2 linked regions of the Homo sapiens genome follow. The protein of the gene in region 2 purifies or fractionates together with the protein of the main gene of each other region. This does not show direct contact. Each region holds a gene or a part of one and is shown on either strand. Other genes may lie near its edges.

What was found. Proteins that work in one complex are often made in the same cells at the same time.
Region 1: the proteins of ZNF677 (region 2) and SFSWAP purify together in Homo sapiens (affinity purification with mass spectrometry; one large-scale study listed by BioGRID and IntAct). This does not show direct contact.

Annotation. Positions count from the first base shown.
Region 1 is NC_000012.12:131,714,090-131,717,589, reverse strand, and holds part of SFSWAP (splicing factor, suppressor of white-apricot homolog), read right to left. Parts: coding exon 3,350-3,500; intron 2,769-3,349; coding exon 2,637-2,768; intron 1-2,636.
Region 2 is NC_000019.10:53,252,074-53,256,222, reverse strand, and holds the start of ZNF677 (zinc finger protein 677), read left to right. Parts: upstream 1-1,349; 5' UTR 1,350-1,389; intron 1,390-1,399; exon of another isoform or gene 1,400-1,624; intron 1,625-3,066; 5' UTR 3,067-3,137; intron 3,138-4,149. UniProt on the Homo sapiens protein: May be involved in transcriptional regulation.

The DNA of each region.
Region 1 (3,500 bases), on a different chromosome or scaffold from region 2:
ATGGGTTAAACAGATTTGGTCTATTCTTATATATACCTTTATTTACAAAAAAACAGCTTTAGTAGCACAAAATAAAAACCAACCATTGCACTACAAACTCAGATTTAAATAAATTCAAATAACCTTTTGTTTAAAAAATGGATATATAGCAGTGAGGGCCTGTCCCCGCCCCATTATTCCCCTAAAAAAGAGGGAAAAAAATGGATATAGAATAATGATGAAAAATTATGAACATCTAAAGGATAAAAACTTGACTGAAAATAGTAAAGATCAGAGATGGAGGCACCATCAAAATGCTTTTGGCTAGTATCACAAGGCTTTAAAATACTAACAAACAATACAATACAGTAATTTTGAAAATCAAGACATACGTAGACATATTGATGGCTCAGGAAAAAAAATTTTATTTTAACAGAATGTGACGCTCAATGGGGCTGTTAGTGGTACTGGATTCTATTACAATATGCACGTATGTGTGTGTGTGTGTTAGGTGTTTCACTTATATTAATGCAAGTTAAACACGAAATGTCAAGCTCTAAGTTTTATGTGGGCCCAATTTCCATTAACGAAATTAATCAGTATATAAGGCAATGTTCTGAGAACACGATTACAGAAAGAAAAGAAGTAACATTGTAAAATACTAAAGAGAACTTTATCTTAAGGGGAAAGCAAACTAATACTCAGATGATAAGCTAAGTCATGCTGAAGTTCTCAAGATTCAATAATTATAACAAACTGAACATCATTTAGCCCAATAATTACGCCGAGACAATGGTCCATCATCTAGAATAGGGGCTGACAAACTCTATAAAATGCCAGACAGTATTAATAAATATTTCTGGTTTTGTGGGCCATATGGTGTTTCATTTCTTCAACTCTGTTGCTGAAGTGCGAAAGTGGCAACAGACAATATGTAAACAAATGAGCATTGCTGTGTTCCAATAAAACTTTGTTATTTTCTTTCCAATACTTTAGATCTGTGGTTGGTTGAATCCACAGATGTGGACCCAATAAGCTGACTGTATTTCAACTCTTTATTTGTGAAGTGGCTATAGTATCTATTCCTTCCTTCTGATAAAAACACCACAGATAGAAAGCTGAACTCATGTGTGTGGCTTAGAGATAAGACAACAAAATCAGAACTATCCAGAACCCGAGGAAGGAGAGCTTATTCTGGATAAATAAATGGGTGTTTACGTTTTAGACCTGATAGAACATTTCTAGTGCATCGTAACTTCTGAGGGATGGGTAGGTTTGAAAGTCAATGCAAAAAGTCTTAAATACCTTAACTGGCCTTTAACTCAGTATAATTACAATTACACTTGAAAGTTTCTCTAAAAGCTCATAAAATAGAGCTGTGCAACAGTAATTCTTGTGCCCACAAAGTAAGGAGCAGGACTAAAGACAGGGCAAAAGGAAAGCCGGTGTGTGCGTTTGCCCCACGTCCTATCATTCCGTTAGGATCGCAGCCCTTGGAGAGTGCCGATGGGTAGAACCATAGTGCAGTCACAGGATGGAAGGGCAAACATCATTTTGCTTTACTACTAAAGTGCTATAATTGCTTCATACTTGTTAAAAGATGTGTCACTTGGCTGGATGTGGTGGCTCATGCCTGTAATCCCAGTGCTTTGGGAGGCCAAGGCAGTAGGATCACTTGAGCTCAGGAGTTTGAGACTAGCTTGGGCAACACAGTGAGACCCCATCTCTTTTTTTAAATTATTGTGTATTTTAATAAAAAAATTTAAAAAGATAAAAAGTGTTACTTAAGGAGAAACCGATGAAGTTCAGAATAACAGATTAAATTAGCTCTACAATTAAATCTCCATTTGATGTAATGTAAACATTTGAATGTTTCTAAGTTAATGTTCTTCTTCTTTTTAAACAGAATATCCTGAATATACTGACCCGTCTTTAAGGTGTCAGGTTCATGTTAGCATTACTGCTAATTAACGACTGACCATGATGCAGCGCTGTGGTAGTGGAGCTCTCGACGCTTAGTGAAGTGATTGAGGATATTTGTGTCTATACTACACGAGCCCAGGTTTTTCAGCAGCACTATTTTTTATATTCAAAGTTTCCCATGTTAATCCAGAAAAGCATAAATTCCAAATCTTTAATTTAAAATACTGTGGTAAGTATATGCCCTAGGTGGCATCAAGGCTACCAGGAAGCTGTGCTGTTTTCTGGGGAGTAGAAACTCCCTCACTGTGTCCTTCCACTGGGCATGTGTCACTGTCTCAGTTGTGGAGGGATATGGGGAAGCAGGTCAGTGAGAGGGCGGTGATGTTAACTTATCCCAGTTAACACCTATTCTTTCACTGCCTCAAGAATGAATCCCTGAGGATATTAATGAACATGTTACCAATCTAGAAACAAATAATCCTGAATGAGTAATTCTGTTACCCGAATCAATGAGAAATAAATAATCCAACGCATTCACTTTCCACCTCCATTAATCATTCTAGTTTTTAACTTCGTTTTACCAAAAGAAGGAATATCACTCCCGTTTTCTCCTGTGGTCATAGTGGTGCTATCATGAGTGCCAGAGATGTGTTCTGCAGACTGGACCACGGTGCATGCAGCCTGTGCGTACACGTGTAGCCCTACACCAGCAGTCCAGGCAGCTCCCCACTCACCTCTCTGTTTGGAAGGCTCCTCCTCCTCCGTCGGCTCTGACGGGTCGTAATAGTCGCTACCGTAAGTGAACCCCACGGCATTGTAGCTCCCATCCTCTGCTAGTGCTTCACTCAATCGCTTGTATTCTTCCTCTTGAATAAAAATGAGAATTTTATCAACAAAAATAGAAAATTACTGAGAAAAACTTTATATATTTCTAAAGTTGTAGCTATCAGTAAAGCATACAACATACTTTTTTCAACCTACTTTTGAGGTAAAATAGTTTTAAAAATTCACACTTTATATCTATCATTATGTACTTTTGTCAGTACATGTTTACCCACAGACAGCTGAATACACGTCTTTTGTGGAAAATTTCTTCCTGCTGAGAAAATTTTGGGATTAAGAACTGTATTAAAGACTGTTACGGCAAAGACAAGAACATCAATTTTATTTATACGATACTGTTAAAGAAGAACAGTTAAAGAGTTTGGTTTTTGTTTTTTTCAAATCCCAGTCTGCCCTCAAAAGCTGGGAAAATTCTTTGTGGCTCTATATATAAACTATCCTGAGGTCCTCTCAGAACGCAAAGACTCCTGTTTTTCCAATCCACTGGGTACTGTCAAGATAATATCAGAAAGAGTGAGTATAAAAAAATGAATGGGAGTAAATTTTTAAATACTTAAAAATTTTAAAAAGTTTGTTGCTGAAGTAAGTTTGTCTTGAGCAGTACCTTGCCTTGCCTCCTCCTCAAGCAAGTCCGTATGCAAGGCTAAATACCTCTCTTCATCACACAGGGCCTCTATTCGCGCCTCCTCTTCAGACAGCTGATAATCTCTGTTCCACGTGGAATACTCAGCATCGTACTCAGAAAGGTCATGCAG
Region 2 (4,149 bases):
GATACCCCCATATGGGCTCATCTTCTCTTGGGGAGCCTCCAGTCAATAAGTTTCCTCTCTGGGCCCAAGAGAAATCAATTCAGTTGGCCAGGAGAATTGCCAAGCACATATTATGTTAAAAATACTCTTCCAAATAACTGAGAATAAAGACTTTACAGACTAAAGGCCAGGAGCGGTGGCTCACGCCTATAACCCCAGCACTTCATGAGGCCCAGGTGGGCGGATCACATGAGCTCAGGGGTCCCAGACCAACCTGGCTAACGTGGTGAAACCCCGTCTCTACTAAAAATGCAAAAATTAGCCAGGCATGGTGGCACACGCCTGTAGTCCCAGGTACTCGGGAGGCTGAGGCAGGAAAATCGCTTGACCCAGGAGGCGTAGGTTGCCGTGAGCCGAGATCGCGCCATTACAATCCAGCCTGGGAAACAGAGACTCCATCTCAAAATAATAATAAAAATAATAATAACGATAGTATATTAGTAATTAATAACTTAGACAAAACACAACATACCAACTCCAATAAATCCAGCACTTGGATTTGTAATTTATCTCAAGAAATGTGCATTAGGATAATAAAGGAAAATAAATTTAGATCGATACAAGCAGAACTTTGCGTTCTTTTAAAGCCAAGCCTCAGCCTTCCACCCCCCACCGCCCAGGGTCTGACCCCATAAATTCTCTGGAACTCAGCCCATGGTGCATCTCTGCCTCCTGGGTGACTGGGGAGCGGAAATAAAAATTACGTTCCAGTGAAAGTCAATATAAAATTGTACACTCCGCACAGGCACAAAAATGCATCTCATTCCAGTTTCCATCACCTACGCAGACAACTCCAGCTTTCGCTTAATTAAATACAAATTTTAATCGTCCGGATTTCAGAAGTTCCTGGATCCAAGAGCTTCCTTATACCGTCGCCCTCTCCCATCCACCAGGTCCCAGCGCTCCTCCCGCCTCGTCGCAGGACGCGCCTCCATCGCTCGCAGAAACGTTTTCAAGCAAACCTTTCCCATCTTAAGCTCCGATTCCAATATAAGGGGCCCACAGGTCTCTAATTTTTTACTTAGCTAGGCTCCAAAGGACACCATAGAGATTCAAGGGAATCCAAAAGTGAAGAATCGAGTACTGCTGGGCGACAAACAGGCCTAAAAAAGTCGCTGGGACGCGCCGAGGAGAGGTCCGGCAGTCCGACCCCTAGGCCCCGCCCATCCCGCCATTGTCCCCGCCCATCCCGCCATTGTCCCCGCCCATCCCCGCCATTTGCCCGCCCATCCCCACAGTTGTCCGCGCCCTGCCCCTGCCCTTGCCCCTTGCGCCGCCCCAGTGCACTCGCGTACGCGCAGGTTCCTGCCGACCCGGAAGCGGATCTCGCGGGGCTACTGGCGCTCTCGGGTGAGTCTCCGTCTTTCGGGTTCAAGCCTGCGCCTCGCGGGCCACAGGTTCCCACGCTCCGCTGTCGGGTTTTGGGGTCGCCCTGTAGGTTAAAACCCCGAACCTGCTCATTCCTCTCGCGGCGTGGCCCTAAGACGTTCCCAGTCCCGTCGCTCCGAGAGGGTCTAGAGATCTGCGTCCATTTCGGATTAAAATCGTTCTGAAGTGGGTACTGGCCCCGACCTTTTTGCTTTAGGTCAGTGTGGACACCGACCGCCCACCGCGTCGTTTCTCTGCTTAAAACTCTTCTCTGACTCCCTCTTCCCTCCCCCTGGTAAAGCCCTCACTCGGGGTGGATACACACCCTTCGCCCTTCTCCAGGGAGAACAGAGGGGAAGCAGAAATGGAGGATAAAGAGGGAGAAATGCGCGAAATTAGAGAGCCATCAGAAACAATAGCAGGGACTGAAAAAAAGGATGCTACCAGGATGGGGCCAAACACTCTGTCAGAGAAGGAGAGGAAGGGAAGCCAAATGAGCAGAAAGGGACAGGAAAACGCCGAAATGGGAAAAAGAAAAGGAAAGAAACAGAAGGTGGAAGAGAAACATTTATAGAGAGGGGGAAAAAAATCACATAATGGTGGAGAAAGGGGGGGGCACCCAAATCCATGTGAGTGTGGATTGATTTAATATGGAACATTAAGTTGTGAAGTACTGATGTATGGCTCTATAATTAATTTAAAATTTGCTTCATTGTTTGTGCAGAAGAGCATGAAAATTGCAAAACTACGGTGTGAGGCTTCTGCGTTTTCTAATTATTACATCAGAAGCAACCCTTATTCAGCCAGAGGGTTAACTGACTTAGCTCAGTTAATTCCAGCTCACCCTCTTCCCTTTCTCTGATCTTGAGGAGAGTCAAGAAATGGGAAGAAACTGTGACACCGTATGCTGCTTTTGCAAACAGACATTAACAATATTATTCCCTCCTTTTTTGTGTGTGGCTTGTGTCATTTTCTAAATTTGACGTGTATTCAACTTGTCTTAAATGTAATTCCATAATTTATTGGATTTAAAAAAAATTTTCAAAGTATTTTCTCTTAAATGTATTGTTCAGCTTATGAGGTTTAAATGCTTTCTTTTGCTTTCTTTTATTTATTTATTTATTTTTTTGAGACGGAGTCTCACTCTGTCACCCAGGCTGGAGTGCAGTGGCTTGATCTCGGCTCACTGCAACCTCCGCCTCCAGGGTTCAAGCGATTCTCCTGCCTTAGCCTCCCGAGTGGCTGGGATTAAAGGCATGCGCCACCATGCCCGGTGAATTTGTATTTTTAGCAGAGACGGGATTTTCACCTTGTTAGCCAGGCTGGTCTCGAACTCCTGACCTCAGGTGATCTGTCTCCGCCTCTCAAAGCACTGGGATTACAGGCGTGAGCCACCGCGCCTGGCCTAAATGCTTTCTACTTTTTATCATATATTGGAACTATTCTTTTATGTCTGGTACTTGATTTCACAGTGTTTCACTCTAAGGTGTTGATAATCTTTTACCACTTAAAATCTGGTTTAACCAGTTAGTTTAATACAGTTGACCTTGAACAACACCAGTTTGAGCTAAGCAGGTACAACTATACAGGGGATTTTCTTCTACCCCTGCCACTCCTGACACAGCAAAATGAACCTCTTCTCTTCCTTTTCCACTGCAGCCCACACAATATGACCTCGGGGAGGATGCGAGGAAGATGAACTGTGATGATCCACTTCTTCTTAATGAATGGTAAATATATTTTCCCTTCTTTATGATTTTCTTAATCACATTATCTTTTCTCTAGCTTACTTTTTTATAAGAATACAGTATATAATACATGTAACATACAAAATATGTGTTAATCAACTGTTTATGTTTTCAGTAGACTTCTGGTCAACAATGGGTTATCAGTAGTTAAGTTTTTGGGAAATCAAAAGTTATACCTGGATTTTTGACTGGAGGTGGGGTGCGATTAGCACCCCATCACTACTGGTGTTGCTCAAGGCTCAGCTGTATTCAGTTTCTTTACTCCCTTATGTCATCTAAAAGCCTCCCACTAAGTAGATGTTCCTCCAGGTCCCCTTTGTCCTTTCTCTGCAAGATGTTGAAGAATGGCCTGGATTGGTGTGGAATTTTGTTCCAACAGAGCCCGTCTGTTCATAATGAAGAGATTACTCAGCACTAATCTCCACAGCTGACCCCCTTTCATGCTTTCCAAGAGTAATAGCTATTTGTAATTTCATATTTTTGAATATTTTTCTGGAAAAGAGTTAAATCCTTGGGATCAATTAAACCCATGAAATAGAAGTTTCTACTCAGGAATGTGAATGGTGATCTGGAAATAAGGACAAACCTTTGCTACTGCCCTATCCAGGCCACCATTTCAACATTCATTTACAACTGAGTTCTGCTCACTCAACTCAGACCTTTTCCAGGTAACTTGGTGAAATATCTCCTCTCTCTGAGGCTCAGTGTGCCCACCTGTAACGTGGAGATGATGGGTATACCAGAAATTCTGAATCTGAGCCGATGGGATCCCTGAAATGATTTTCAGGATTGAGCATGTGTCTGCATGTGGCAATTTTTTGAGAGAGGGTGCCCAGTTACAGTTAGTCTTAAATGACTCTGAGACCTCCAAAAATGATGGAAACTACTAGGAAAGGGGTCGGGGCATAGGGTTAGAGATAGGAGAGCTGCTTCTCTCTCAGCTTTTTATTCTTTCTCCCTATCTCTACATCAGAAGTAAGTCTTAAGTTTTATT